4 linked regions of the Homo sapiens genome follow. The protein of the gene in region 1 purifies or fractionates together with the protein of each later gene. This does not show direct contact. Each region holds a gene or a part of one and is shown in the gene's direction. Other genes may lie near its edges.

Region 1 (8,247 bases):
CCACGCGGGCCCCGGAGGGCGGCCGCTGGTGGGCGCCACTGCATTGCACCAGCCCTGGAGGGAGCCGGGCCTGGCTGCACAGGATGTGGTCAGGGCAGACAAATCCTCACTTCCTCAGATGTTTTCCACCAAAGCATTAGGTCTTTTTGGAGTTCAGAGTAGAATCCTAAAGACTGGACTTTTGAGTTGGATAAATGTGTAACAATTTTCAGATTAAACAAACAAGAGACTAGATCCTTTTCTCCACGGACACCCAAACCTCCACCCCCCACCCCTTAGTAGTGCTGGGGATCCGAGGCCACTGCCCCTTCACCAGTGCACTCGCACGAGGCTACCTCGAGCGGCCCTGGGGTTTCCTAAATGAAACTCAAGGGTCAGGACAGAGGGTTGCTGGGCAGCGTGGAGTGTGTGGGTTTGATGCTGACGGCCCGAGGCCCGAGTGGGACCGGCCTGCTCTGTAAGCAGCAGCATTGATCAGCGAGTGTTTCCTGAGAACTTCTCCGTGTCTCATGCAGCCTTTGTTTCTGATACCGCTTGAAACAGTTTCTTAATGAAATGCCATACCTAGGTGAAAGTGCTATTTAAAAATACCTTGACATGTTCTAGGATAATTGGTGAGGAATCACAGAACATTTAGAACTGGGAAGGGTCTTAGTGATCACGTGATGCAGGCTCTTCTCTTATCAGTAGGAGAGCAAATTGCTGAGAGTCAGTCCCAGACAGGCTTGGTGACAGCTGAGATTGAGATCCGGGTGGCCCAATATCCAGGCCCAGGCCTGTCTCAACATACCCTGAGATTGGCTTGACAACTTTGTTTTCTCAGGTAGCACTTGTAGTAAATTCATATTTATGATTTGACCAAGGAATGAAGTGAACCCAGTTGTTCAATTGCCATTTAGAGAATGATTCCGGGGCCCTGTACTGGGGCTTTCCAGAAGCTCGTAACTTCAGCTTTGTAGAAAGGTAGAACGTCCCTGAGGAAACTGCAGAGGCACATTCCATAGGGAAGTGAGGATGGAACAGAAGTGTGTTTGGGAGAAACAGTTGCCATGAAGAAAGCAATAGCTCTGCCTTTGCCGGGGCTGTGGGTCCGGCAGGCTGACACCTCATCCCGCAAGCATTTTGCTGGTCTGAGTCGTGGTCGTTCTTCCACGTTAACTTTGATGACAGCACCATGGGCTTGGCTGAAGCTGTGTCCCTTGGACAGCAGTGGGAGGCCTGAGACTGGGTCAGGAGAGAGCTGCTGTTGTCTCTCTGAGGCTGCCAGTTGTTGTGTGTTACCGATGCCAGAAGCCACTGGGTCCCTGGCCTTGCATCCCACCACTGTGTGTGTTGTTGAATTTCCCCTTTCCGTCTGCGGGTCAGTGAAGTCATGGGCTGCTTGTCCTGTGCTCTCTCCCCAGGAGAAAAGCCTTACAGATGCTCATGGGAAGGGTGTGAGTGGCGTTTTGCAAGAAGTGATGAGTTAACCAGGCACTTCCGAAAGCACACCGGGGCCAAGCCTTTTAAATGCTCCCACTGTGACAGGTACGTGCCTGAGGACAATGCTGGGCAAGGAGCGTGGGGCCTTGGGAATGTGATGACCAGGGTTGAGTAGGTGTGCAGGGCACATTCGAAGGAAGGCATGCAGTTTCCTATGTGTGAACATTTCTTTTCAAGCCTGGGACTTTTTAGAAAGTTTCTGGTGTGCTCATTGTCCATGGTTAGGAAGAACTGTTCCACATACACCTGACATTGGAGTCAGTTTATTGATATGTTTGGAGATTGGCCTTTCAACAGTTTTCATATTTGAAGAATTAGAAATGAAGTCCGTTCAGATTCTCCAAAGAACCTCCAGCCACTGGTGGGGGACATTCTTAATTCACATTCCTATCAGTTGGTATCTCCTGTCCCTGAAGACACTGATGAGGCTTGGGAGGAGAATCCCACCTTTCCCTGCAGGGGGTTAGGCTGGGCAGGGCAGGGAGGTGAGGGCGCTGGTCCAGAACACTGGCAAGGGATGGGAACCTAACTTCTTCTGTGCTTCTGATTTGCCCTTGCAGGTGTTTTTCCAGGTCTGACCACCTGGCCCTGCACATGAAGAGGCACCTCTGAGGGAGCAGAGAGGTGGATCCTGTAGGCTAAAAGGCTTCCAGGCTGAGAGCCGGCCGTGGAAGGAGGGATGCGTGTTCCAGCCAAAGCATGCCGTTCTGCACCCTACCCAGTTGCCTCCAGGGCCTCTCCTTGGAAGGTCTTTTGAGGGCTAAAAAGGTCCTGTAAGAAGCGGCATAGCACCCGTGGTGCATGGTATGTGGGTGACCCTGGACTCGCCACTGGTACCCGCCCTTCCGAGCGGCGCCTAAGCCTTTGCCGTGAGCATGCACACTGAGAATGCTAATGGTTGGGTTGATTGTATGTTGAGGATCTATTACTGACCGTATGATGAGGCCAACTTTTTTTCCTTGTGGTTAGCAAGACTGCAAGAGATGGAAAAAAAGTAGTTTGAATGTTTTGTGTGTAAGGAGTATACCATGAGATGAGATGACCACCAATCATTTCCTTGGGGGGAGGGGGTGTCTGCACCTTAGAAAAAAAAAGAAAAATCAAAAAAACAAAAAAACAAAAACAAAAAAAGAAGGAAAATCTTGGAGGGTGGGCGTGGGAACTCAGGACCCCAGAGTGGCGAGTGGTGTGGGGAGGGAGAGCCTCTCTCCCCCTTTTCTGTGTGAGAGGAACTCTTAGTGTCTGGTGCAGCTATTAAATGTGCAATGTGTCAAGTAGCTTGTTTTACACGCTACAACATAGCTCATTTGTAACCCATTGTATAAGCTGTGTATTTACAAATATAACACAACAATTTAACTTTTCCTTAGAATACAAAAAGTCATGCATGGTCTGGGGAACTATATGCTTTTCCATTTTTAAGTCAGGACTGCAATACTGATTCCAGTTAATGAGCAGCTAAGATCCAATCTGTCTAATACAGTGACCCCCTAGCCATCCGGGCCTGGCAATATACAATTTTTTTTCCCCTCCAAGTTTGTAACACTCCCCTTCCAGAAAGGCATTGTGCAACACAGGATTATTTTTAAATGATTCTGAATTTGAATTAACTTTTTGGAGAATTCTGTGATGCCCTTAGAAGAAATTGGACACGTATTGAGTGTCACAAAGCTGGGGCTGGGAATTGCTGGTCTAATGTTTCATTAGACTTAAGAACCTAAAATTTTTCTCAGTTGGGTGGATAAAACCACTAACGCTTAGAAACTGTTTTCTCATGCAGCTATGTTTCTCTTATTTATGCCTTGAGGACTAATTTCTGGTTTTCTAGCTGTTAATGCACTGTTGACCTTCATAATGGTGCCTTACGCAAGCGATCCCTTCTGTGGGGGTCTCATACAGGGGTGTGGGCGATGCATGCTTTATTAAGGCTCTTGTTTCACCTGGCAGTGTACTGTATCAACGTATAATACAGAAAAAAAATCTCTTTAAGGTCCTCCTTCACAAAGACATAGAGTGAAACTCCCTTTACATGTCAGTATTTGTTCAACACTTTAGGCAACTTGACTGTCAGTGTTAAAATGGAAAACAGGAAAATGGAAAAATCTGACCAATTCTGCCACCTTGAGACTTTCATATAGACCTTGCACAACAATTGTATAGATCACACACCGGCTGTATTTAATATGTAACATTTTCACACATATTAAAGATACAGAAGTATTAAAAAACCCCCAATGTTAATGTATTTGCTTAAAAGGCACAAGTTTCACATATCTGTCTAGCTATCTGTTGGTAATACAGAAAGTATACTACTTTTTTAAAAAAGTGGGCAGAATTCTTGTGTATGTATATTTGTGTGTACAGTATGTGTATGTGTGTATATATATATATTATATATATAGATAATATATAAATATTTTTTTTAAGGAGAAACTAGAATGTTTAGCTAGAAAATTCCACAGCCTGTGAAGAAATATTTCAAAATGGCCATAAAGGAGGTAAAAATGAAAACCATAACCTAACTTTTATAGAGGCTTTATCTTTAATTTAACGATGTGCGGAGGACTTTCTTGCTTGAATCTGTTCCGGGCTGTCTGCTCTGTCCATCAAATGGGCAGGTCTGGAATGGGGCACCTTCGGCCGTTCAGAAGTGGCCTGAACAGAATGCTGGAACCCAGGCTGGACTCGGACACACTAAGGTTTTGATTTTGAATTTCAGCCTTATTAGAAGATCTAACCTAAGAGTAAGCTAACCACAGGGATTCTTTTGTAGAACACTTTTTATGCAGATGAAGCTATTTTTTCCAGCAAGTAGATTCTTCCAGTTTTTCCAAGGAGTAATTTCCCCGAATTGGCATACCACGGCGTGGACAGCTGATATTTCACCCAGCTGCTGGCTTGTGGGTGTGGCTCTTTGCTTTATATATATATACACACATGTGAGTCTGGCTGGGCTGGTATTTTGTTTGATCTTCCTGGAAATGAGCAGTGACTAACGCTCACATAACTGGTTTTTTTTTTATCTGGGCTGATGAATACATTTACCTAAGAAACTCATTTCGTTTTACTTAAGAGGGGAAGTGCAGTTTTCTTTTGGCAGTTCAGAATCCAAGCACTTGATTTGCTGGGTTTGGAAAACTCCTTTTTTGGCCTTCTATGTGCTTAGCCATAACAATTCCATTAAGCAAGAAGGTAAGCAAAAGACAAAAAAAAAAAAAGGAAAAAAAAAAACTTGCACTGGCTTGTCTCACTTACGAAACATGTCGGAGCTGTTTGCCTGGGTGGGGCTGGGTACCGTACCTGTCAATGCCTGTGATTTTCATAATTAGCACGTACATAAAGAAGTACATTCTGTTCAGGTGATAACTGAGCCTCAATCAAGCAGAAACTTTTTGCTTGAAATTAAAAAAAAATTTCTATTAGTGAAATTTCTTTTTTTTTTTTTTTTGGAAGCACCCTGTTATCTAAAGAATCTTTGTAAGATTTTTGTAAAATTTTGTTTTACAAGATTTTATTTGAAATTGTTTTTTGCAAGATTGTTATATTTCTGTATGAATGTATTTTTTATTGGAATAACATAAAAGAATTCTTATCAGCATCTTGAGTCTGGTTGTTTTTTTTGGGGGAAGGGGGTTGTTGGAACAGATTCCTCCTGCATTCATCACCCTGGCTTCCTCCTGGGGGCAAATCTTCATTGAGCAACCCTGAGAACAACTCACCGACCTCAGCCCCTTCCTCTTTCCACAGCCTGTCCTGGGAGCTGGAGAGGATGTCAGCGAGCCTGACATTGCCCTCCCTGAATGCATCAAATACTCTTCTCCAAGGACTGACAAAAACAACCCCCCGGCTGTGGGCACAGTAGGGAACCATGCCGGTTTGATCTTCCATTGCTCAAGCCAGGGAATGCATTGCAGAGGCACCTGCACAACGACAAACTTGAGTGTTTCCCTGCCACTTCTGTGCCTCCACAGCCTGCTCCAGTTCCGCAGCTAGAGCTGGGCCTACCTTCCCCAGCCAGCCCTGCCACACACCTGGCTGAGGCATGTCTGGGAGGGGTGGAGGAGGCAGAGGGACTCCAGGCCAGAGGGCTGTTCTCACAACCTCAGCCCACTCTCAGTCAAGGAGGGCAGAAAATAAAAGATGACATCACTGCCAGAGGAGTTACATCTCTTTTTTTTCTTTTAAGGCCAATAAGATACATTAAATGTAGAGTTTGTTTGAAAATAGGCAGCCTTTTGTTTTTTAGAGCAATGTTTAGCAAGTAATCTCAGCTTTGCTTTACTGTGTGGACCAGGACAATTTGATCCTTGTAGGAGTCCATTTTCAGATTACACTAAGCCAATCAGTAGCAATGGGGTAAATCAATGTGTTTCCGTGGGAACCAGCTTCTTAGTGTGACAACAAGGATATTCTACTTGAGGTGGCTTAAGCGCTCACTCCTCTCCATAGCTCTTCATTTTGCTAAACGTGGGGAATTTACAGTGGTTGCTTTTAATTTTATAATTGGAGAGGGGATGGATGTTAAGATGTGTGCCCAGACTAGGAATGTTCATTAATTTTCTTTCTATAACTGTGGTAAAAATGTCAGCAGTTTGGAGGGAGCTGTGGTAGGGCAGGACGTGGGGAGCAGACGACATTATTGCCGGGATTCGTGGGCGTGTTCTATCCCCAAGCACATGTCAACATGACTCATGGTTGGATTGCCCCGAATGTACAGTCTAAATTTAAAGTCTTGATAGTCATTCGCGGCTACTATTAAGACTTGACCACTTTGTCATGGAAAGACTATGCAGGACAGCTAAGTTATGTTCAAATAAGGCTGTTAGCGCTGCCGTGCAAGGAATCGGCTGCAACCTTAGGGTATTTATAGAAGTATAAAAAATTTCAGTCTGCTTAACAAATTTTTTGAAACCTAGCTAAAAGAAGAAAGGAAATGTTCTAGCTTGAACGAGCTGTGTGCTTTGGACAATTTGCTGAGCTACACCGACCCTCAGTTTGCTTATTGCTAAAATAGGGCTAGGTCACGTGGATCCAGCATTCTCGATAGCACTACAATTCTGTGGTGTGTAAGTATAGGGTGCACTTCAAATTACACGTTCGCCATCTTCAGAGTGCTGGCCTCAGCTCGAGAAAGCTTTCTCTTGTGCTACATGAAAGAATTGTTGAGGAAAACTGTGCTCAAATGGAAACTAGGACTTTCTCAGATTGCCCTTTGCCCGTCTAATTACAGTTAAGTTATTTAGACATTTGTTGCGTTATAGCATACCATTTTTTAAATTAAAATCACCATTTTTGAAAAGTGCTGTTGTAGCTGTAAATGGACCCAAAGTCTCCCAAGTGTCCCCACTTTACCGGCCCCGTTCCCTATCCAAGTTGACCTGAGTGCTCAAAGGACAACACAGGCAATCGGAGGAAAGTGTCTTCCTTTTCTGCTGTAATTGCTACGGAGAAAGAACACAGCTTTCACACCTAACTCCCCTCTTTTCTGTTAATATTATGCCACCAGGAGCTACTTTTAAACAACCATCCTTGCCAAACGGAATTACTTTCCTAGCAAAATTTCATGATGATGCAGATAATGGTGTCTGCTTCCTACTTCTTGTGCTGTAGATTACAGGACCCCAACCCCCAGGCCACGGATCGATACTGTTCCAGATCAGTGGTGGCATTAGCTTCTCAAAGGAGCATGAACCACCCTATTGTGAACCGTGCATGCGAGGCATCCAGGTGGCATGCTCCTTATGGGAATATAATGGCCTAATGCCTGGTGATCTAAGGTGAAACAGATTTATCCCCAAACCGTCTCCCACCCCCACCTATCCCTACCCTTCTCCACCCCCAAGTCCCACCATCCCTGGTCCGTGGAAAACCTGTCTTCCGTGAAACCAATCCCTGGTGCCAAGAAGGCTGGAGACCGCTGCAGTAGATGTTATATCTATTTCACAGATGAGGAAAACTGAGGCCCTGAGAGACAACACAACTTTCCTGAGGTCACAGCTAGGAAGCAGCAGGCTCAGCATACTGGTCCAGGTCTCTTAGATGCGAAAGACCGTGCTTTTTGTCACCATCCCACACTGCTGTCTCGCCCAACCTTTGCTGTTCGATCTGCAGCAGCCACCATAATATGACATTACATGTATGAAATGCAGACAGGGCTTTCTCGCAATTCAGAAGCACTCCAGCTACAAATTGTGCTGTAATCCTGAGAAAACAAAAGTAACCATTTTGAATTGCTTTCAAGATATGAGACAGATGGCACATATTTATTTTTAATGTTTAAGAAGATAGAGAAAGCAATTGGAGATGTGACATCCTGCATTAATTGGCATGAATCACCTAATGCACACAGTTAAGATACAGAGAGACGAAAATGAGGCCCATGCATCACGCAAATGAGGACCACAACAAAGTGTGTTTAACTAGATTTATTTTATAACAAGGTCTTTCTGTTTCTAAGTAATTTTAACGAGAATTCTCTAAACGTCTGTGGATGAAGAGACAAAGAGGAGAGTAAATATGGGTTCCACATGTCCTGAGAGAAGCCACGCCAGGCGGCACGATCACCACAGAATCTTAAAAGACAGATTTAACCAGAATGCCCATTGGCCTACGAGTCCCGTTCAGCTGCAGTTGCTAGGTTGCATTTACTTTCCTTTACATGATCTGTACAAAACACTGTAAGTGTGTGTGTGTTTGTATTTAAATATATGTGTATGTATATATAAAATGTACATACATACACACAAATACACATGTATGTATATA
Region 2 (8,390 bases), on another chromosome or scaffold:
AGAGCTCATAGACAAATGGAGGCAGGGGAGCTGACTCACTGATGGAGCGAGGTCTGCATTCCACGGGTTTTCTGTGCAGTTATGGGAGCATGACAGGGGAGGCTCCAAAATGGAGGTTGAGCTGGGTCTTATAGAATAAATAAGTTTGCTGGGACCAGAGACATGGGTGTGCACAGACTCAGAGGCAAGAAAGTTGTATGATGAGGGTGGGGGGGTGTGCGGATAGAGGTTGAAGCCCAAAAGCCCTGAAAGTTCAGTGTTGAGGCTCAGGGTGGGGACCCTAGAGAGGCAAAAGATGCCCAGCCAGATGGAATTGGTGGTGTGAATTGCCAGGACTGGAAAGAGCCCAGATGGGGGCTGCAGCATGGGCCTTGGTTGAAGCCTCTAATCCTGTAAGGGCTGCTTTGGCCCAAGAGGCCTTAGAAACCCGGTGTAAGCCTCAATCGGTAGCCGGTCTGGCCTCTTTCTCACACTTAACCGACACAGCTCTTGCTCTGATCTCATCCCAAGTCATCTCGCTGGAGGACAATTAACTCGGCTTCAAAATGGCCCTCAGCCTGGAGCCAAGATTTAGGAGCAAGACCGTCTAGTTGGGAGAGAAGATGTTTTTGGAGAGTTGAAGACTTCTTGAAAAAGTTCGAAAAGTTCTTGAAAAAGCAAAGGATGCTTCTTTCCGTCTGGGAGAGGGAAAACCTCTCCCAGGGCAAAAGGAACTAAGACCAGGGGTGGGTTAAAAAAAAAAAAAAAAAAACCTTTCACTCTTGTAGAATAAGCCAGGAGCCGGCGTGTGGTAGACTTCTGGGCCTGTTTCCCGACAGCTGGTTTCGTTTAGATTTTTGTGTGATTAACTGACATCTTCCTGTTCCTTTGCCACATGTATCTAGCAAGCCTCTTTTACCTTATAAGGGAAATCCTTTGTAGCGTGTGGAAGGCTTTGATTGCAGGAAGGGGTGGAACCCAAAATGACTCGGCCGTGACTAGCAGTTTTTCAAAAATACATATATATGTATGCATGTACAGATATGCGTGTATCTCCCAACTCCAGACAGCTGAAAATCTGCCAAAAGCGTTGTTTGCCAGGATTCAGAATTTCCCACATAAGGGCTACTCACTTCTTAAAAGACAACTCATGAATCAAGCACCTCTGTTTGATCTTTAAAATCAATTCCTCGACTGCTAATGGGTACACAGTTTTTTGTTTGTTTGTTTGTCTTTGGCGGGTTATGAAAATGTCCTGGAATTCGATAATGGTGTTGGTTGCAGAGTGTTTTTGCAACATCAGTTCCTGGCCCAGTTACTGAAGGTGGTAGGAGGAGTTAAGATCTAGGCAATTAAAAAGAATGAAAGGCACCCATTCATGGGAAGGCCTCAGTGACGTTTCTTAAGACAGTTTCATCAGTGGTTTTCACAATTCTCTGCATTTGGTGTTTCAGAGGACACTGCAATACGAAACACCTGTGGGAGTGCCCTCTTTCTGCTTCTAGGAATCTGAGGCTGAGAAACCTTCCTGACTCTATTTGTGTAGTTTTTCGGCCACGTTAGCCTCATTCTATTTTTTTTTCCCCCAGTATGAACTCAGGGCAGGAGAGGGAGTGGTTTCCTAATAATTTTTTTTTTTTGAGACGGAATCTTGCTCTGTTACCCAGGCTGGAGTGCAGTGGCGCGATCTCGGCTCATTGCAACCTTCACCTCCCGGGTTCAAGCGATTCTCCTGCCTCAGCCTCCCAAGTAGCTGGGATTACAGGCGCCTGCCCCCACACCCAACTGATTTTTTTGTATTTTTAGTAGAGATGCGGTTTCACCATGTTGGCCAGGCTGGTCTCGAACTCCTGACCTCATGTGATCCACCCACCTCCGCCTCCCAAAGTGTTAGGATTACGGATGTGAGCCACCGCGCCCGGCCTTCCTAATAATTTTGATAGCCTTCCCCAGTTCAGGGATTCTTCATTTGTTCTGATAGGAAAAAGCTAGCGTGGCTTCCCTTTTCCTCTCGGTTGAGGCCCGTTTGACCCGTTCTCAATATTCCTTCCAAAGAGCAGGCATCGCTGGAAAACTCGCCTTGCCTCGTAGCCCTGGCAGGACCTAGGGGACAGGTTCTGACAAGGAAGAGCCCTGGGTGGGTCTTAAGAGGCCATTCATTTCTTACCAATTCTGAGTCACTGAATAAAACCACTTCCCCCAGTGGGGCCCCTCGGTTTCTTCACCTGTAAAATGGGTGCGATGTGTGAGGATGAAATTGCAGTAAAATAAAACCGTGGCAGTAAGAGATGCCTTTCTCTGGCACATCCCACCTGCTGGGCATAAGCGGCGCCACCCTCTGGAGTTACAGCCTCAAGGCAGTCCGGTAACTAATCAGGCTTTGGGATGGAGAGGGCCAGGATGAGGAAGCAACCTTCCCAACACCACGTGGCTGTGAAAATGACAAAGCACGGTCGGGCGCAGTGGCTCACGCCTGTAATCCCAGTACTTTGGGAGACCAAGGCGGGTGGATCACGTGAGGCCAGGAGTTTGAGACCAGCCTGACCAACAAGACGAAACCCTGTCTCTACTAAAAATACAAAAAAATAGCAAGGCGTGGTGGTGTCCGTCTGTAATCCCAGCTACTCAGGAGGCTGAGGCAGAATTGCTTGAACCCGGGAGGTAGAAGTTGCAGCAAGCCGAGATCATGCCATTGCACTCCAGCCTTGGTGACGGCGCAAGACTCCATCTCAAAAAAAAAATTAAAAAGAAAATGACAAAGCGGGGATTCCAGCCCAGCACTTTTTGGCCCTGGAGTTCCTGGTTTAATGCTTCCCATTGTACTTCCTTTCTTGTAGGTAAAAACACCTTGAAAAGCCAATAACACTATTGGGGTATGTCTTCCATGCCTGCAACCAAGTTTTCTTTCCCTTTCCATATCTTTTTGTCCTGCCATCTCTCAGCCAGGCGGATTGAAGGATGGAATTCCAACGAGGCTCCCCCGCCTCGTCCCACCTTGGTAATTGCATGGCCAACATTTAACTGAGGGCTCCATAGTCTTGCATTTATCTTGCCATTCAGGTGAATGGGAGCGGAACTCACAGGACACAATGAGCCGGGTCACTGATGGCCTTGCTTTCTAAGAATCTCACAGTGAGCCCTAGAACTCTCTACGTGGTAACACTGTGTGCCTTTTTCAGAGAAGAGCCTATCTTAGATCTTAGCCTAACGTTGGGTCTATTGTGTTGCTGGAGAGACCAGCACTGACATTCATCTCAAAGCACATGGTATGTTTGACTCCTATGTTGACTCAACTACCCATCTTGTACTGGGACACTCGCTTTTTTTTTTTTTTTTTGAGACGGAGTCTTGCTCTGTCACCAGGCTGGAGTGCAGTGGCACGATCTCAGCTCACGGCAACCTCCGCCTCCCGGGTTCAAGTGATTCTTCTGCCTCAGCCTCCTGAGCATGTGGAACTACAGGCACGTGCCACCACACTCAGCTAATTTTTCTATTTTTAGTAGAGACAGGGTTTCACCACGTTGGCCAGGATGGTCTCGATCTCTTGACCTTGTGATACACCCACCTCAGCCTCCCAAAGTGCTGGGATTACAGGCATGAGCCACCACGCTTGGCGATGCTCATCTTTTGCTATGGAGTGGTAGATGTTTTTCCCAGACATTTTCCGGGAAGATCATACTGAAATTTTGGTATGAGTGTAAATTCCCTATGGCCTGGACTCCTGGGTGGGCTTTGACGGGGAAGATCAGGTTAACAGAGGGCAGGACATGGGGGAGGCTCCCACTGGTGGCTGGCCTGATACTTCTTAACATGGCTGCACCTCCGACCTCCCCAGGCTGAAGGTGATGTGGCCGCCCTCAACCGACGCATCCAGCTCGTTGAGGAGGAGTTGGACAGGGCTCAGGAACGACTGGCCACGGCCCTGCAGAAGCTGGAGGAGGCAGAAAAAGCTGCAGATGAGAGTGAGAGGTAAGGACGCTTTGAATCTGGTGGCATCCGTGTTTGCTTTTAGAAAATGGGGATCATGCTGCCGACCTCGCAGAGCTGGTGTGAAAGTAAACAAGGTCACAAGGACATGCATGTGTCCACAAAAAAGTGCATGACAGCACTTTGTAAACCATCACTCCATGGGTAGAGATGTTTATCCGTGGCCAGGCACGGTGGCTCATGCCTGTAATCCCAGCACTTTGGGAGGCCAAGGCGGACGGATCACCTGAGGTTGGGAGTTTGAGACCAGCCTGGCCAACATGGTGAAACCCCGTCTTTCCTAAAAGTACAAAAAAATTAGCCTGCCATGGTGGCGGGCACCTGTAATCCCAGCTACTCAGGAGGCTGAGGCAAGAGAATCTCTTGAACCCAGGAGGCAGAGGCTGCAGTGAGCCGAGATCGTGCCATTGCACTCCAGCCTGGGCAACAAGAGCAAAACTCCATCTCAAAATAAAGTGAGGGGTGTTTATCCTTACGGTAACCATGAAAAGAAACTTCCGACAGACAGAAAGGCAAACAGAACGGGCAGATGTGAGACTGCAAGTATGACTGTCCATGGTGGTCAGTTTGCAAAGCACTGCTTCTCGTATTTTCTCTGAAAGCCACAGTGCCTCTTAGTGTTCTCTAGACACCAAATTTCAGGTAGGCCGGATGCAGTGATTCCTGCCTGTGCTCCCAGCACTTTGGGAGGCAGAGGCGGGCAAATCGCCTGAGCTCAGGAGTTCAAGACCAACTGGGGCAATGTGGTGAGACCCTGTCTCTACAAAAAATACAAAAATTAGCCGGGTGTGGTGGTGCACGCCTGTACTCCTGGCTACTCAAGAGGCTGAGGTGGGAGGATCACTTGACCCCAAGAGTTTGAAGCTGCAGTGAGGCAAGATTGTGCCACTGCACTCCAGCCTCAGTGACAGATGAGATTCTGTCTCAAAAAAAAAAAAAAAAAAAAAAAAGCAGAGTACTGTGGAGAGGAGGAAAGGAAACTTGGGATGCACAGGTGATTGTTAGCAGAGCTGTCAGGCTTTAGGCTTTTGGACGGTGACAGCTATTTCAGGGACAGTTGCAAACCAGCATGGTTAATGTACTTGCAACTGACCATGCACCAGGTGCCGTGGCTCACGCCTATAATCCCAGCACTTTGCGATGACGAGGCGGGTGGATCAACTGAGGTCAGGTGTTTGAGACCAGACTGGCCAACATGGTGAAACCCCGTCTCTATTAAAAATACACAAATTAGCTGGGCGTGGTGGCGGGCACCTGTAATCCCACCTACTCAGGAGGCTAAGGCAAGATCCCCCAGCTTGAACCCAGGAGGCAGAGGGTGCAGTGAGCCAAGATCGCACCACTGCACTCCAGCCTGGGCAACAGAGTGAGACTCTGTCTCAAAAAGAAACTGACCACGTTCCTCACCCGCCCATGGTATCTGTGCTGCAACCCAGCCACCAGTAGGGTGCCTTCTCCTCGGTAGCCAGATCATTCTCTGGCACGCCTTGGCACAGGCTCTCTGGAAGACTGAGGGTAGATTGTGTAATTCACAGAAGCAGCAGTCTGTGTGTGGTGGAAAAGGAGTTCCTTGTGTGGCAATGGTGTGGGCCCGACCAGTGATCATCGCGTCTGCCCCTCATTCACACCGGAGTTCTCACTTGAGCCAGCCACCATGCTTTTGCAGTATAAACACCTCCCAAAGATTCATTTCTTTTTTTTTTTTTTTTTTTGAGACAGGGTCTTACTCTATCACCCAGGCTGGAATGTAGTGGTGCGATCACAGCTCACTGCAGCCTCGACCTCCTGGGCTCAAGCGATCCTCCCGCCACGGCCTCCAGAGTTCCAGAGTAAAGCTGGGACTACAGGCGCATGCCATCATGCCCAGCTAATTTTTTTTTGAGACAGAGTCTCGCTCTGTCGCCCAGGCTGGAGTGCACTGGCGTGATCTCAGCTCACTACAAGCTTCACCTCCTGGGTTCACGACATTCTCCTGCCTCAGCCTCCCAAGTAGCTGGGACTACAGGCACCCGCCACCACACCCGGCTAATTTTTTTGTATTTTTAGTAGAGACAGGGTTTCACCGTGTTAGCCACGATGTTCTCAAGCTCCTGACCTTGTAATCCACCTGCCTTGGCCTCCCAAAGTGCTGGCACGCCTAGCTAATTTAAGATGCATTTCTGGTTGTGCTGCTGTGACCACTAACCAGAGATTAGAAACCAGCTAAGGAATCTTGGAGATTGCATGTCACCCAAGCTGGAAATTTCTTCCCAAGTAGTGGAACAGCCAGGGCAGAGGGAACAGACGCTACTGCAGACTCTGCTTCAGCCACTGAATCAAGGGAGAGAGTGGCAGCTCCGGCAGCCACGGGGCAGTGGAAGGACCCAGTCACGAGAGTTCCTGGCTGTGCCTGTGGCCTGGGTTAGCTGCTGTTCACAGTCAGACCAGCCTGGCTGGATGCTGACGTTGAGGGCTCCCATATTGGCAAACCAAGGGAGGCTGCGAAGGCCAGTCTCTTGTTTGCACCATGTCCCCAGAGGCCTTTGGTGACACCCCTGTTAAAGACTGCTGTGTCTCAGTAGAAAGAATTATATACTTGAAGCTTGGGGATCTAGAGTCAGCTTCTACCACTGGCACTTTCTATGGAGCCTTAGGCAAGTCACTTTGATCTCTTGGGTACTACAAGGGGTTTTGGGGCAATAAATAACCCAGAGAGCTTGCTCACATGCTGAGGGTGAGACCTCGTACAGGTGGGGGAGGGTGTTTTGAGACTTAGCTGAGAACGGGTGACACCCCACGTGAACATATTTATTGGACAGCAAGAAGCATATGGTCTCTGTGCTGGGTGGGAATGATACATATCAATGACACATTATCCCAGGCTGGCCTCTTCTTTTCTTTTCTTTTCTTGTTTTAAATACACAAGGTCTTGGCAGGGTGCGGTGGCTCACACCTGTAATCCCAGCCCTTTGGGAGGCGGGCGGATCGCTTGAGCCCAGGAGTTTGAGACCAGCCTGCGCAACATAGTGAGACCCCATCTCTACAAAAAAATATTAAAAATTAGCCAGGCATGGTAGTGCATGCTGGTAGTCCCAGCCACTCAAGGGACTGAGGTGGGAGAATCACCTGATCCCAGGAAGGCAAGGTTGCAGTGAGCTATGATTACACCACTACACTCCAGCCTGGGCAACAGAGTGAGAACCTGTCTCAAGAAAAAAAATAAATAAATACACAACGTCTTGCTCTGTCACCCAGGCTGGAGAGCAGTGGTGCAATCACGACTCACCGCAGCCTTGAACTCCTGGGCTCAAGCGATCCTCCTACCTCAGCAACATTGCAAAACCCCCACCTCCACAAAAAATTTTTTTTTAGTTTAGCTGGGTGCAGTGGTGCACACCTATAGTCCCAGCTACTCAGGAGGCCGAGGCAACAGGATTGCTTGAGCCTGAGAGGACAAGGCTGCCGTGAGCTCTCAGGGCACCACTGCACTCCAACCTGGGCAACAGAGTGAGACACCATCTCTCAAAATAAAAGAAAAAGAAAGGGGGCACAGACTCTGGAGTCAGACTGCCAAGGGCTGAGCCTCAGCTCTACCACTTACCAGCTCTGTAACCTTAAGTTACTTACCCTCTCTCTATGCCTTAGTTTCTTCATTTGTAAAATGTGGATAATTTACCTGCTCCATAGGGCAGTTGTGAAAGTGAAGGCACTTAGAAAAGTGCCTGGTAGTAAAGATGAAGGGAGGCTGGGCGCGGTGGCTCACACCTGTAATCCCAGCACTCTGGGAGGTCAAGGCGGGCAGATCACTTGAGGTCAGGAGTTCCAGACCAGCCTGGCCAACATGGCGAAACCCCCTCTCTACTAAAAATATAAAAGTTAGCCGGTCACGGTGGTGCATGCCTATAGTCCCGGCTATGCTGGAGGCTGAGACAGGAGAATTGCTTGAACCCAGGAGATGGAGGCTGCAGTGAGCTGAGATCACACTACTGCACTCCAGCCTGGGTGACAGAGCGAGACTCCATCTCAAAAAAAAAAAAAAAAACCAAGATGAAGGAAATGTGTGCACAGAGTTCCATCTTTGCAGTGTGTTACAGTGCTCAGTAGATTCAGAGACTCATTTAGATGAGAGATGGGACTAGGGGTGGTGTCTCACGCAATTAGCCAGACATGGTGACGGGTGCCTGTAATTCCAGCTACTCAGGAGGCTGAGGCAGGAGAATCGCTTGAACCCGGGAGGTGGAGGTTGCAGTGAGCTGAGATCGTGCCACTGCACTCCAGCCTGGATGACAGAGCGAGACTCCATCTGAAAGAAAAGATAGATGAGAGGTGGGTGGAGGGGTGTGAGTGAACGGCCGTCCTGATGAGATTGCTCCTTGCAGAGGAATGAAGGTGATAGAAAACCGGGCCATGAAGGATGAGGAGAAGATGGAGATTCAGGAGATGCA
Region 3 (8,175 bases), on another chromosome or scaffold:
TAAAAAAAAATTACATTGGGAATGTCCTTTGAGTGGTTGGCCCTAATCCCTGTCAGAAGCTGAAAGTTGTGGATCCTAAATTCATCTGGGCAGAATCTCACCTATGATTTCAGAAAGCTGAGAGTTTCAGAGAGTGACTGTAGTCAGTCCTTAGTGAGTACAAAATTGAGAATACATCATTACTTTAAATTAATGGTGCAGTAACTCTTGTGACTGATAGCAATAATTTAGGTGCTTTGTTGTTAGTACTTGATTAGATTGGATTGGGTCAGTTAGTTTCACCAAATTGCTAAAGACACCTGTCCCCCTAGAATTAAAATACTGAGTTACATAATGGCTACTAAAAGGATAACTATATGGGGTGTTCGATGATTCAAAGGTGAATTACTTGGTCTCTACCTTCAAGGAATATGATACAAGGCAATATGGTACTGCCATTAGACAGATATTAACAAAGTGTCTTGGGACTTAATAGGGAGGGTAGTTCCAGGCTGGGAGATGTAGTCAGATTCTTTTATAGAGTTGGCATTTGAGTTGGCCCGTGAAGGTTGGAAAAAGTTGTGACAGGTGGAAAAGGAGCAGGGGAGACCAGGACAGTGCAGTGAAATTCCAGCCAGGAGCAGTCACAGGCAATGAGACAGACTCATGGAGCCATGATTCTCAGCTGTCTTACCTTACCTTAGTTTTCCTAAGGAATATCATGGAATTCTGTAAAGACCTTTAAACTAAATAATGTTCATATGAGATGAGTGCTAGGATGGGGACCTGCTGCCTAATATAAGTAGTGTGAGTCTAAAACATTGTGGAAAGTGGTTAGTTTAATAATGTTATTAAAGAGACAAGTCTATCACAAGGGACCAGTTACCAGTGAAACTGTAGACCACCTGATTCACTGCGATAGGGTTAGCCAAAGGGAGGAGAGGGCAGATTGCATACATAGTACCTAAGGCCACTCAAAGACCTCTTTTAAAATCACGTGTCATGTTGATGACATTTGGAGGCTATTAATGTTTTTCTTCCCTTTTAAGACTTAGTGTTTTCTTTATTAGCATTAATTTACTCTAGTAAACAAAATTATGTGTGACTAAAAATGGCAAAACAGGCTGGGCGCAGTGGCTCACGCCTGTAATCCTAACACTTTGGGAGGCCAAGGCGGGTGGATCACTAGGTCAGGAGATCGAGACCATCCTGGCCAACATGGTGAAACCCCGTCTCTACTAAAATACAAAAAATTACCTGGGCGTGGTGGTGCACGCCTGTAGTCCCAGCTATGTGGGAGGCTGAGGCAGGGGAATCGCTTGAACCCAGGAGGTGAAGGTTGCAGTGAGCCAAGATGGCGCCACCGCACTCCAGCCTGGTGACAGAGCGAGACTGTCTCAAAAAAAAAAAAAAAAAAGCAAAACATCTAAAACTTCTGTTATATTCTAGTGTGTAAAGTTCTGCCTTTGCCACTGAGATGCATATCTGTTTTACAGAATAGTTTTTTTTCTTTCTTTCTTTCTTTGAAGACGGAGTCTTGCTCTGTCACCCAGGTTGGAGTGTGGTGGCCCAGTCTCAGCTCACTGCAACCTCCACCTCCCGGGTTCAAGCGATTCTCCTGCCTCAGCCTCTCGAGTAGCTAGGACTACAGGCGCGTTACCACCACGCCTGGGTAATTTTTTTATTTTAGTAGATTTGGGGTTTCACCATGTTGGCCAGGATGGTCTTGATTTCCTGACCTCATGATCCGCCTGCCTCCCAAAGTGCTGAGATTACAGGCGTGAGCCACCACGCCTGCCCTAATTTTGTGTTTTTAGTAGAGATGGAGTTTCACTGTGTTGGTCAGGCTGATGTCCAACTCCTGACCTCAGGTGATCCTCCTGCCTTGGCGTCCCAAAGTGCTGGGATTACAGGTGTGAGCCACTGTGCCCATCCTTGTTTTGTATTTTCTAAAAGAGATGTATCTTGTTTAAATATTAAATTATAAGATATTCAGGCCTTGCAAATTGTCTGGATTACACTGTAAAAGTAATCATTTATGTGCAAATAATTCCTTGAGATCAATAGTTAAATGAGCTCAAGCTGATCTGACTAAATTGGAGAAGATACAAAATGAAGATGGGGAGGAAGTGGTGCCATAAGCAGCCTTTTTTCTTTGACCATTTTATATGCCTTTTTTTTTTTTTTTTTGAGATGGAGTTTCACTCTTGTAACCCACGTTGGAGTGCAATTGCTTGGCTTGCAACAACCTCCACCTCCCGGGTTCAAGAGATTATCCTGCCTCCGCCTCCTGAGTAGCTGGGATTATAGGCATGAGCCACCAAGCCTGGCTAATTTTGCATTTTTAGTAGAGACGGGGTTTCTCCTTCTTGGTGAGGCTGGTCTCGAACTCCCAACCTCAGGTGAACCATCCTCGTCGGCCTCCCAAAGTGCTGGGATTACAGGTGTGAGCCACCGTGCCCTGCCCGCCATTCGTTTTTTTTTTTTTTTTTTTTTTTTTAATTCTGACTCTTCTGTGGTGGAAACCAGCAAATACTTCACATAATTTAGGATGCTAATACTAGTACAGTTAAAAGAATGATTACAAAGCAGATACTATTTCAAATTCTGTAAAAATCTGTTTTTAATATCCTTCACTGGCTGTTTGTTCTGACTAGAAATGTTTTGTATATCTGAAAGCACCAGTAACTCATAGCCATATAATTTTTTTGGTAATATGTTCATAGGCAAGTGGCAAGAGTTAGTAGAAAGATTTCTCTAAGAATTTATCCTAAATCAGATTACACAGAGTTGGGGTAAGTGAGTATTGTGTTATTTTCTTTTGTATATTTGACAATGGGAACTTTTTGAAACTCAACTTCAGTGTAATTTTAAGTCACTAAATTTGTCCACAAGTTAATGATTAAACAGTTACTGAAAGTGGAGAACCTTGCCATTTTTCGGACTGCGTTTTGGGTCTTTGGCACTGTGGTTAGGTTAGCTAATTCGATTATCCACTCAAGTTTTACTCAGTTGGAAATATGTTTTTCTAGATGATGGTGCCTGTGCTTAGGTTTGAGAGGATATTTAAAATACGACTTTGTGTGCCATTGTTTGACAGTGGAATTAAGGGTAAAAATATTTAGATATGGAAGTGTGAAAATGTAGTTGCATTGTTTTCATTATGTTCTATTCCATTTCATTCTATTTTAAGAATAGCCTCAATTTATTTTTAGATTGTTACATAAGTACAAAATCCATTTGCTTTAGTGGGAGTTTTATTTTTATTTTAAAATGATAACCAATTAAAGGAGTTTATTATGAAATTCTAAGTAGCATTGTTTAAAATGTAAAATTACATTACAGAAACATTTGGAAAGGGGAGAATAAAAGAAAACAAAACACAAATGTTGCCAGTGCTGTAGGTGCTATTATTAGCGCTTTGGTGTAACTCATGGTCGTTTTCCTACTATTTTTATTATACAGTCATCTCTTGGTATCTGTGAAGTGGTTCCACAAACTCCCTCAAATACCAAAATCCTCCTATGCTCAAGTTCCCAATATAAAATAGTGTAGTACTTGCATTACAACCTTTGCACATCTTCCCATATACTTTAAAATCATCTTTAGATTACTTATAATACCTAACACAATGTAAATGCTGAATAAGTAGTTGTTAACATTGTATTGTTTAGGGAATAATGGCAAGAAAAGTCTGCATGTTCAATACAGATGCAACTTTTCCACTGAATATTTTTATTCCAAGGTTGGTTGAAGCCATGGATGCAGAACCCATGGATATAGAGGGCCTACTGTACTTGTACCATCTAGAGATAAGATTTGTATCTTGCATTTGTTTTAACATATCTGTTCTAAGGAATATCTCAGTCACCAGGCAAGTGCTGCAGTATAACTAGGTACTACGTCAGGTGCTAAGGTTAAGAGAGTATTTTCCTTCACTGACTCCTCACTCCGAGAATCCATTTTACAGCTTCATTGGTTTGGGTTATTCCAATTTTTTGATGTGAGTAAATAAATGACTTCTATTTGCCCAAAATAAAGCTTATATAGGCCTTATAACCATGCAAATGTGTCCATTAAGTTGGACTTGGAATGAGTGAATGAGTATTACTGCCAGTGTGTGTGTGTGTGTGTGTGTGTGTGTGTGTGTGTGTCTGTCTGTCTGTCTGTCTGTCTGTCTGTCTGTCTGTCTGCCTGCCTGCCTGCCTGCCTGCCTGCCTGCCTGGCTGCCTGTCTGCCTGTCTGCCTGCCTGCCTGCCTGCCTGCCTGCCTGTCTGTCTCACTTTGTCCCCTAGGCTGGAGTGCAGTGGTATGATCTCGGCTCACTGCAACCTCCACCCCCCGGGTTCAAGCGATTCTTCTGCCTCAGCCTCCTGAGTAGCTGGGATTACAGGCGCATGCCGCCATGCCCGGCTGTTTTTTGTATTTTTAGTAGAGACGGGGTTTCGCCATGTTGGCCAGACTGGTCTCAAACTCCTGACCTCAGATGGTCCACCCGCTTCAGCCTCCCAAAGTGCTAGGATTACAGGCATGAGCCACCGTGCCCAGCCACTACCAATTATTTCTCTTAATGGATTTTCATTGACCCTAACCCTGTAAATTCCATCACTTTTATCAAGGTGTATATTATAATAAGTCTATAATACCCAATCATGTAGTTGTGTGATTATTTTATTTTTTTGAGACAGAGTCTCAATGTTGCCCAGGCTGGAGTACAGTGGCACCATCTCAGCTCACTGTAAGCTCCGCCTCCTGGGTTCACACCATTCTCCTGCCTCAGCCTCCCAAGTAGCTGGGATTACAGGCGCCTGCCACTTCACCGGGCTAATTTTTTGTATTTTTCGTAGAGACGGGGTTTCACCATGTTAGCCAAGATGGTCTCGATCTCATGATCCACCCACCTCGGCCTCCCAAAGTGATGGGATTACTGGCGTGAGCCACCATGCCCAGCTATTTTTTTAACCAATATATTAGCTAGCTTTTTTCCCCAGAATAATTTTCCAAAAATACATTTAATAGAGAATAAAAGTTAAAAGAACTTTCAGTGGTTTAATGCTGTTACTTTTAATATTTCAAAGATCTGACTGCAGCCATGAGCAGCAATGAGTGCTTCAAGTGTGGACGATCTGGCCACTGGGCCCGGGAATGTCCTACTGGTGGAGGCCGTGGTCGTGGAATGAGAAGCCGTGGCAGAGGTGGTTTTACCTCGGATAGAGGTATTTTGTCGAATAGAAAAATTTGAAGTACTTCAGTATTTGTTAGTATCAAGACTGGTCTGACTAGCCGAATTCTTTGTTTTTGCTCAAAACAGGTTTCCAGTTTGTTTCCTCGTCTCTTCCAGACATTTGTTATCGCTGTGGTGAGTCTGGTCATCTTGCCAAGGATTGTGATCTTCAGGAGGATGGTAAGTATTTAACACTTCCTTTTCATACCCCTCTAGAGCTTGGAGAGGTGAGCACATGCAACTGTGTATAGCATTTCCACCTTTGAGGTTTTGTATTGTATAATTTAAAACGTAACACTTTGTAAAGGTTTTATAGTCTTGGCCTGTTTCTTTTCCTTATTGTTGAAGCCTGCTATAACTGCGGTAGAGGTGGCCACATTGCCAAGGACTGCAAGGAGCCCAAGAGAGAGCGAGAGCAATGCTGCTACAACTGTGGCAAACCAGGCCATCTGGCTCGTGACTGCGACCATGCAGATGAGCAGAAATGCTATTCTTGTGGAGAATTCGGACACATTCAAAAAGACTGCACCAAAGTGAAGTGCTATAGGTAAGGTGTCAGAATGTTGTTAGAAGAAAACTCATTGCAGAGATTCTTCCAGAGATGAATTAGCTATAAATGGAAGGGCCTTAGTAAATTCAGTGAAACTTAGCTGTGACCAGATAAGACCAATTTTCAGCATATGTAACTGGCAGTCTATCTGTATATAATTCTGTATTCTGCCCTGATATCCTGTGGCTTATGGTACCTGGGCAGTTTTCACAACTGGACTTTTTTAATATATAAAAGTAAGAGTGTTATAATTTGAAACTTCCAGAGACTTCATAGAAAGCTCTGTAATATACATAAATCTTTTATCATGTAACCAGAAATCTTTGCCTGTTTGTGACATGTAAGTGTATAATTTGATAAATGTTGTTGTGTACATATCTGTGAAACCTTAGGGGTTAATTGCATGAAAACAAAGATCAGGCGTTTTGTTCTGCATGGTGACTGTTGCTTTGGTAGACAGTTTTTTTCTGAGGCCCATTGTGAAAACTTTTAATTTCTTTTTTAGGTGTGGTGAAACTGGTCATGTAGCCATCAACTGCAGCAAGACAAGTGAAGTCAACTGTTACCGCTGTGGCGAGTCAGGGCACCTTGCACGGGAATGCACAATTGAGGCTACAGCCTAATTATTTTCCTTTGTCGCCCCTCCTTTTTCTGATTGATGGTTGTATTATTTTCTCTGAATCCTCTTCACTGGCCAAAGGTTGGCAGATAGAGGCAACTCCCAGGCCAGTGAGCTTTACTTGCCGTGTAAAAGGAGGAAAGGGGTGGAAAAAAACCGACTTTCTGCATTTAACTACAAAAAAAGTTTATGTTTAGTTTGGTAGAGGTGTTATGTATAATGCTTTGTTAAAGAACCCCCTTTCCGTGCCACTGGTGAATAGGGATTGATGAATGGGAAGAGTTGAGTCAGACCAGTAAGCCCGTCCTGGGTTCCTTGAACATGTTCCCATGTAGGAGGTAAAACCAATTCTGGAAGTGTCTATGAACTTCCATAAATAACTTTAATTTTAGTATAATGATGGTCTTGGATTGTCTGACCTCAGTAGCTATTAAATAACATCAAGTAACATCTGTATCAGGCCCTACATAGAACATACAGTTGAGTGGGAGTAAACAAAAAGATAAACATGCGTGTTAATGGCTGTTCGAGAGAAATCGGAATAAAAGCCTAAACAGGAACAACTTCATCACAGTGTTGATGTTGGACACATAGATGGTGATGGCAAAGGTTTAGAACACATTATTTTCAAAGACTAAATCTAAAACCCAGAGTAAACATCAATGCTCAGAGTTAGCATAATTTGGAGCTATTCAGGAATTGCAGAGAAATGCATTTTCACAGAAATCAAGATGTTATTTTTGTATACTATATCACTTAGACAACTGTGTTTCATTTGCTGTAATCAGTTTTTAAAAGTCAGATGGAAAGAGCAACTGAAGTCCTAGAAAATAGAAATGTAATTTTAAACTATTCCAATAAAGCTGGAGGAGGAAGGGGAGTTTGACTAAAGTTCTTTTTGTTTGTTTCAAATTTTCATTAATGTATATAGTGCAAAATACCATATTAAAGAGGGGAATGTGGAGGACTGAAAGCTGACAGTTTGGACTTTTCTTTTTGTACTTAAGTCATGTCTTCAATAATGAAAATTGCTGTTAAAAGGATGTATGGGATTTAGATACTTTTGCAAAGCTATAGAAAATTCACTTTGTAATCTGTTATAATAATGCCCTTGAGTTCTGTGTTCAGTCTGAACAGGTTTTTTGGTGGTGGTGGTTTTGTTTTGTTTTGGAGACGGAGTCTCACTCTTGTCGCCCAGGCTGGAGTGCAGGCTTGGCTCACTGCAACCTCCACCTCCCGGGTTCAAGCAATTCTCCTGCCTCAGCCTCCTGAGTAGCTGGGATTACAGGCACCCGCCACCACCCCCCGCTAATTTTTTGTATTTTTATTTTTATTTTATTTTTTTATTTTTTTTTGAGACAGAGTGTCGCTCTGTTGCCCAGGCTGGAGTGTAGTGGTGCGATCTCGGCTCACTGCAAGCTCCGCCTCCTGGGTTCGTGCCATTCTCCTGCCTCAGCCTCCTGAGTAGCTGGGGCTACAGGTACCCGCCACCGCGCCCAGCTAATTTTTTTTTTTTGTATTTTTAGTAAAGACGGGGTTTCACGGTGTTAGCCAGGATGGTCTCAATCTCCTGACCTCGTGATCCGCCCGCCTTGGCCTCCCAAAGTGCTGGGATCACAGGCGTGAGCCACCGCGCCCGGCCTATTTTTTGTATTTTTAGTAGAGACTGGGTTTCATCATGTTGGTCGGGCTGGTCTCCAACTCCTGACCTCAGGTGATCCACCTGCCCCGCCCCCCAAAGTGCTAGTGTTACAGGTGCGAGCCACCGTGTCTGGCCGATTCTGAACAGTTTTAATACCATTG
Region 4 (3,746 bases), on another chromosome or scaffold:
ATAATCACTGAGAAACAAGATTTTTGCTTTGAGGATAAAGTGTAAGTATTTTTTTAAATGGTGCTGATTGAATTTACTTATTAGTCTTTGGCCTGGTTTACTCTTTTTTTTTTTTTTTTTTTTTTTTTTGAGACAGGGTCTGGCTTTGTTACCCAGGATGGAGTGCAGTGGTGTGATCACGGCACTCTACAGCCTCGACCTCCTGGGCTCAAGTGATCCTTCCACCTCAGCCTCCTGAGTAGCTGGGACTGAAGGCATATGCCAACCCACCTGGCTAATTTTTGTATTTTTTATAGAGACGGAATTTTGCCATGTTGCCCAGGCTGATCTCCAACTCCTGGGTTTAAGTGATCCACCCCACTTGGCCTTCCAAAGTGCTCAGATTATAGACGTGAGCCACTGCACCTGGCTTATATTTCTTTTTTGACATTATCTGTTAAATAATGCTATGAGAGTTGAGGATTTTTTTTTCTTTTTTGGACACAGAGTCTCACTCTGTCGCCTAGGCTAGAGTGCAGTGGTGCCATCGTGGTTCACTGCAGCCTTGACTTCTGGGCTCAAGCAATCCTTCCACCTCAGCCTCCTGAGTAGCTGAGACTATAGGCATGTGCCACCATGCCTGGCTAATTTTTCTTCCTCCTCAATAGACTTTAAGCTCCATGGGGGCAAGAACTTTTTTCTTCCGTGCTATAAACGTGGTGTCTCTAATAGTGCCTGATATATAGCAGGCACTCAAGTAATATTTGTTGAATGATTTAATCTAGTAATTTTTCTGGATACTGATTAAAATGTTTATTTAATTTTACTTTTTGTTTTTTTGAGAGAGAGAGGTTTCACTCTGTCACCCAGGCTGGAGTGCAGTGGCAGTAATCTTAGCTCACTGCAACCTCTGCCTTCCTGGGCTCAAGTGATCCCCCCACCTCATCCTCCCAAGTAGCTGGTAGCTGGGATGTGCACACCGCAATGCATGGTTTGTTGTCATTGTTGTTGTTTTGTTTTGTTTTTCTTTTTGTTTTTGAGAGATGGGGTTTTGCCATGTTGCCCAGGCTGGTCTCCAACTCCTGGGCTCAAGACATTCACCTGCCTCAACCTCCCAAGTGTTGAGATTACAGGCGTGAGCCACTGTGCCTGGCCTAGCCTGGTTTATTCTTGATTTGGATTTGAATTATATATATTATCTAGCATCTGAATGACTTATTAGTACCTTTATTGGTAGAAAGTTGGTGTTTTCCAAATATCCTTCTAGATTGAATTTAGAAACCTGAAAAATCAGTTGCTGGTAAGAATGAAAGTTACCTCTGCCTTTGCTAATATAAGGTGCCAAGATTTCAGGAATTAAGATATTAACTAGCCTCATAGATCCTGACTTTTTGAGCAGAGCCCTAGATCTTAAATAATAATTTAACCCTAGAATTTAGAATTTAGATCCAGGTATTAGGCCGAAGGCACTTTTCTTATGTCCACTTCGCCCATAGAATCCTAGAGGGGATATTTTCCAAAGAGCATACCCACAAAAGCCAATATTAGCAACTGTAAACTTTTGTGGATTATTTCTTTGAAGATCTATTCTCAGTGTCAGATGGCACCAACATTATTTAATGGTTGCAATTATTCGTGAAATTATCCTAAATGATACTAGCTTCCTTCTGATGTCCATGTTTTTCTAACTTACTGTGTTACTAATTACTTACACGAATACACCATGAGAATGCTATTGTATAAGCTGGTGAACAACTCAAACCTCCGATTTCAAAAATTTGTTATCTGTGATCCTGTATGAGTCTTTTTCACCATGGTAATGAATACAATCAACTGACATCTTTGAGACTCCCCTTTCTAGAAGTTGAGATCTTGCCTATTAGCTTAATATATAATTCCCCTATAATGTTTGATTAAAGCAAGATGAACTATAGTTTATTTTGAAGGGACAATCAAACCTCTGAAGCAATAGTCTTGTCTGATCTTGTAACCACAAGATTAATGCAGTTCCTATTATATTATGTTTCACCCTGTATGATTGGGTACCTTGATCCAACCAACCATTTTCAGAAGTTTCTCTGAATAAGTGGAAAAGGAAGTGTTCCCCAGCCATCCACCAAAATGAGTTCCAAGTTATGTAATTTTCCTGCAGTGGTGCTGGGCTGTCCATCCACAGGCAAGTCTCTTGGCAGATTCATACAGTCACCATCTCCTTCAGAACCTGTGATGGAAAAGTCCAGTACCAGTGAGCCTATGGTTCTGTAATGTGAAAAAGATGGAATTGGAATCAATTGTCAAGATCACCTAGACAAGTTCAGGGTGTCCTTACATTGTGTGAGGTGACTAGTGTCTTATGAAGGGCAGCCCCCTCCTCCTGTCCCCTGTGCATCATTAATGATGGCATTGAAACCCCTTCCTAGAGTTCTAGAGATAGGGACTACCAACAGTGGTAGTCACTCTTCCTAAGTACTGCTGACTCCATGATACTGACTCTGTTTCTACAACCTGTTCCTTTCATTAGACAGGGGCATATTTTTCTACTTCTTAATTGTGTTCCTCATGTACACTGTGGGTGCCGCTGTTACAGAGACATTGACAAACTTAGACTGTTCTGATTTCAAATAAACCTGATTTTGACTTTTTAACACCAAAGTTCTGATCTTTATTTCTATTTTTTGGAAAACCAGTAAGAGACAGCAGCAGGAGGGACTGGACTGGATTGTAGAAAACTTCAAGAGTTAAGGAGTGCGGAGTGCTGCTCAGGTGCCTTTGTTTCAGGTATGAGAATATGGGTCTGAAGGTAATTTGAAAGCCAGCCTTATATATACAAGGAGGGAAAAGATAGGTCCTGAGGACCAAGTAGGTGTCAGGGAATGGTAGTCTGCCAGCCTGCTCCACTTGTGACATTTATTTGCTAGGGTTCCTGAAGGTATACGCCAGCAATTAAAGTAATATGTAGGTTATTACTCCTTCAGATGTTTACTGTTCCATACATTGTTGTCCATTTCCTTGCTCTGCAGACATTGCTGGTATGACAAGGTTCCAGTTTCTGAGTCTGAAAGACACTGGGCTCATTTTCACTCTAAGGCAGTAGTCTGGCAGCTCAGCTGGTTTCTAACATAGTATTTTCACACTTTGTGACACTGTTAAAAATTGTCAATGAATTCAGGCATTGGAAGCTGGGGACAAAGATTTGGGGTTTGCATGCTAAGGCTCCCTAAGCCTTGTGTTTCCTGTCTTGTTACACAAAAGAAGTACAGTGGGATGAATGAATTTGGGTAAATAGATCATGACAAAAAGTGCTAATGTTATTTGGGTTATGTTGAATGCTCCCATATAATAAATGCTCTCTCTTGTGCCTGTCCAGGTCATAGTCTCTGTTCTATATAGCAGCCAACCACAAGGGTTGATTGGTAAGCATTCCTGCATCTGTGCTGTTCCCCCTAGATTGCTATCTGATATGTTTGTTTCAAACATGTGGAGATCCTGTGTCTGAACTTGATTTCACCATTGCTGTCAATTTTCAGGCAAGGTATACAGTAACTGGGTCAAAATTCCTTTCTGATGAATGATAGAATTTCATATCAATTTGGGATTCAAGCTTTCAGTACATGGGAATACCAAACCTTAGAGTGGGGATCTTCTAACCAAAGTTTACACTTCTGGAGTTGTTGCCTGCTATGGCATATGTTCTGGAATGTGGTCTTTCCCTGTAGCCATTTAACAGTAAGCCTTATGATTTGTACTTATTAATAACATCTGTAGAG

The links.
Region 2: the proteins of KLF6 (region 1) and TPM4 purify together in Homo sapiens (affinity purification with mass spectrometry; one large-scale study listed by BioGRID and IntAct). This does not show direct contact.
Region 3: the proteins of KLF6 (region 1) and CNBP purify together in Homo sapiens (affinity purification with mass spectrometry; one large-scale study listed by BioGRID and IntAct). This does not show direct contact.
Region 4: the proteins of KLF6 (region 1) and USP26 purify together in Homo sapiens (affinity purification with western blotting; one study listed by BioGRID). This does not show direct contact.

The regions. Positions count from the first base shown.
Region 1 is NC_000010.11:3,773,386-3,781,632, reverse strand, and holds the end of KLF6 (Krueppel-like factor 6), read left to right. Parts: intron 1-1,403; coding exon 1,404-1,527; intron 1,528-2,042; coding exon 2,043-2,094; 3' UTR 2,095-5,637; downstream 5,638-8,247.
Region 2 is NC_000019.10:16,078,099-16,086,488, forward strand, and holds part of TPM4 (tropomyosin alpha-4 chain), read left to right. Parts: intron 1-2,816; exon of another isoform or gene 2,817-2,854; coding exon of another isoform or gene 2,855-2,977; intron 2,978-3,814; coding exon 3,815-3,948; intron 3,949-8,324; coding exon 8,325-8,390. UniProt on the Homo sapiens protein: Binds to actin filaments in muscle and non-muscle cells. Plays a central role, in association with the troponin complex, in the calcium dependent regulation of vertebrate striated muscle contraction.
Region 3 is NC_000003.12:129,168,654-129,176,828, reverse strand, and holds part of CNBP (CCHC-type zinc finger nucleic acid binding protein), read left to right. Parts: intron 1-5,057; 5' UTR 5,058-5,071; coding exon 5,072-5,195; intron 5,196-5,290; coding exon 5,291-5,383; intron 5,384-5,545; coding exon of another isoform or gene 5,546-5,551; coding exon 5,552-5,750; intron 5,751-6,258; coding exon 6,259-6,376; 3' UTR 6,377-8,175. UniProt on the Homo sapiens protein: Single-stranded DNA-binding protein that preferentially binds to the sterol regulatory element (SRE) sequence 5'-GTGCGGTG-3', and thereby mediates transcriptional repression. Has a role as transactivator of the Myc promoter.
Region 4 is NC_000023.11:133,090,364-133,094,109, reverse strand, and holds part of USP26 (ubiquitin carboxyl-terminal hydrolase 26), read left to right. Parts: intron 1-2,666; 5' UTR 2,667-2,757; intron 2,758-3,346; 5' UTR 3,347-3,392; intron 3,393-3,746. UniProt on the Homo sapiens protein: Deubiquitinase regulating several biological processes through the deubiquitination of components of these processes.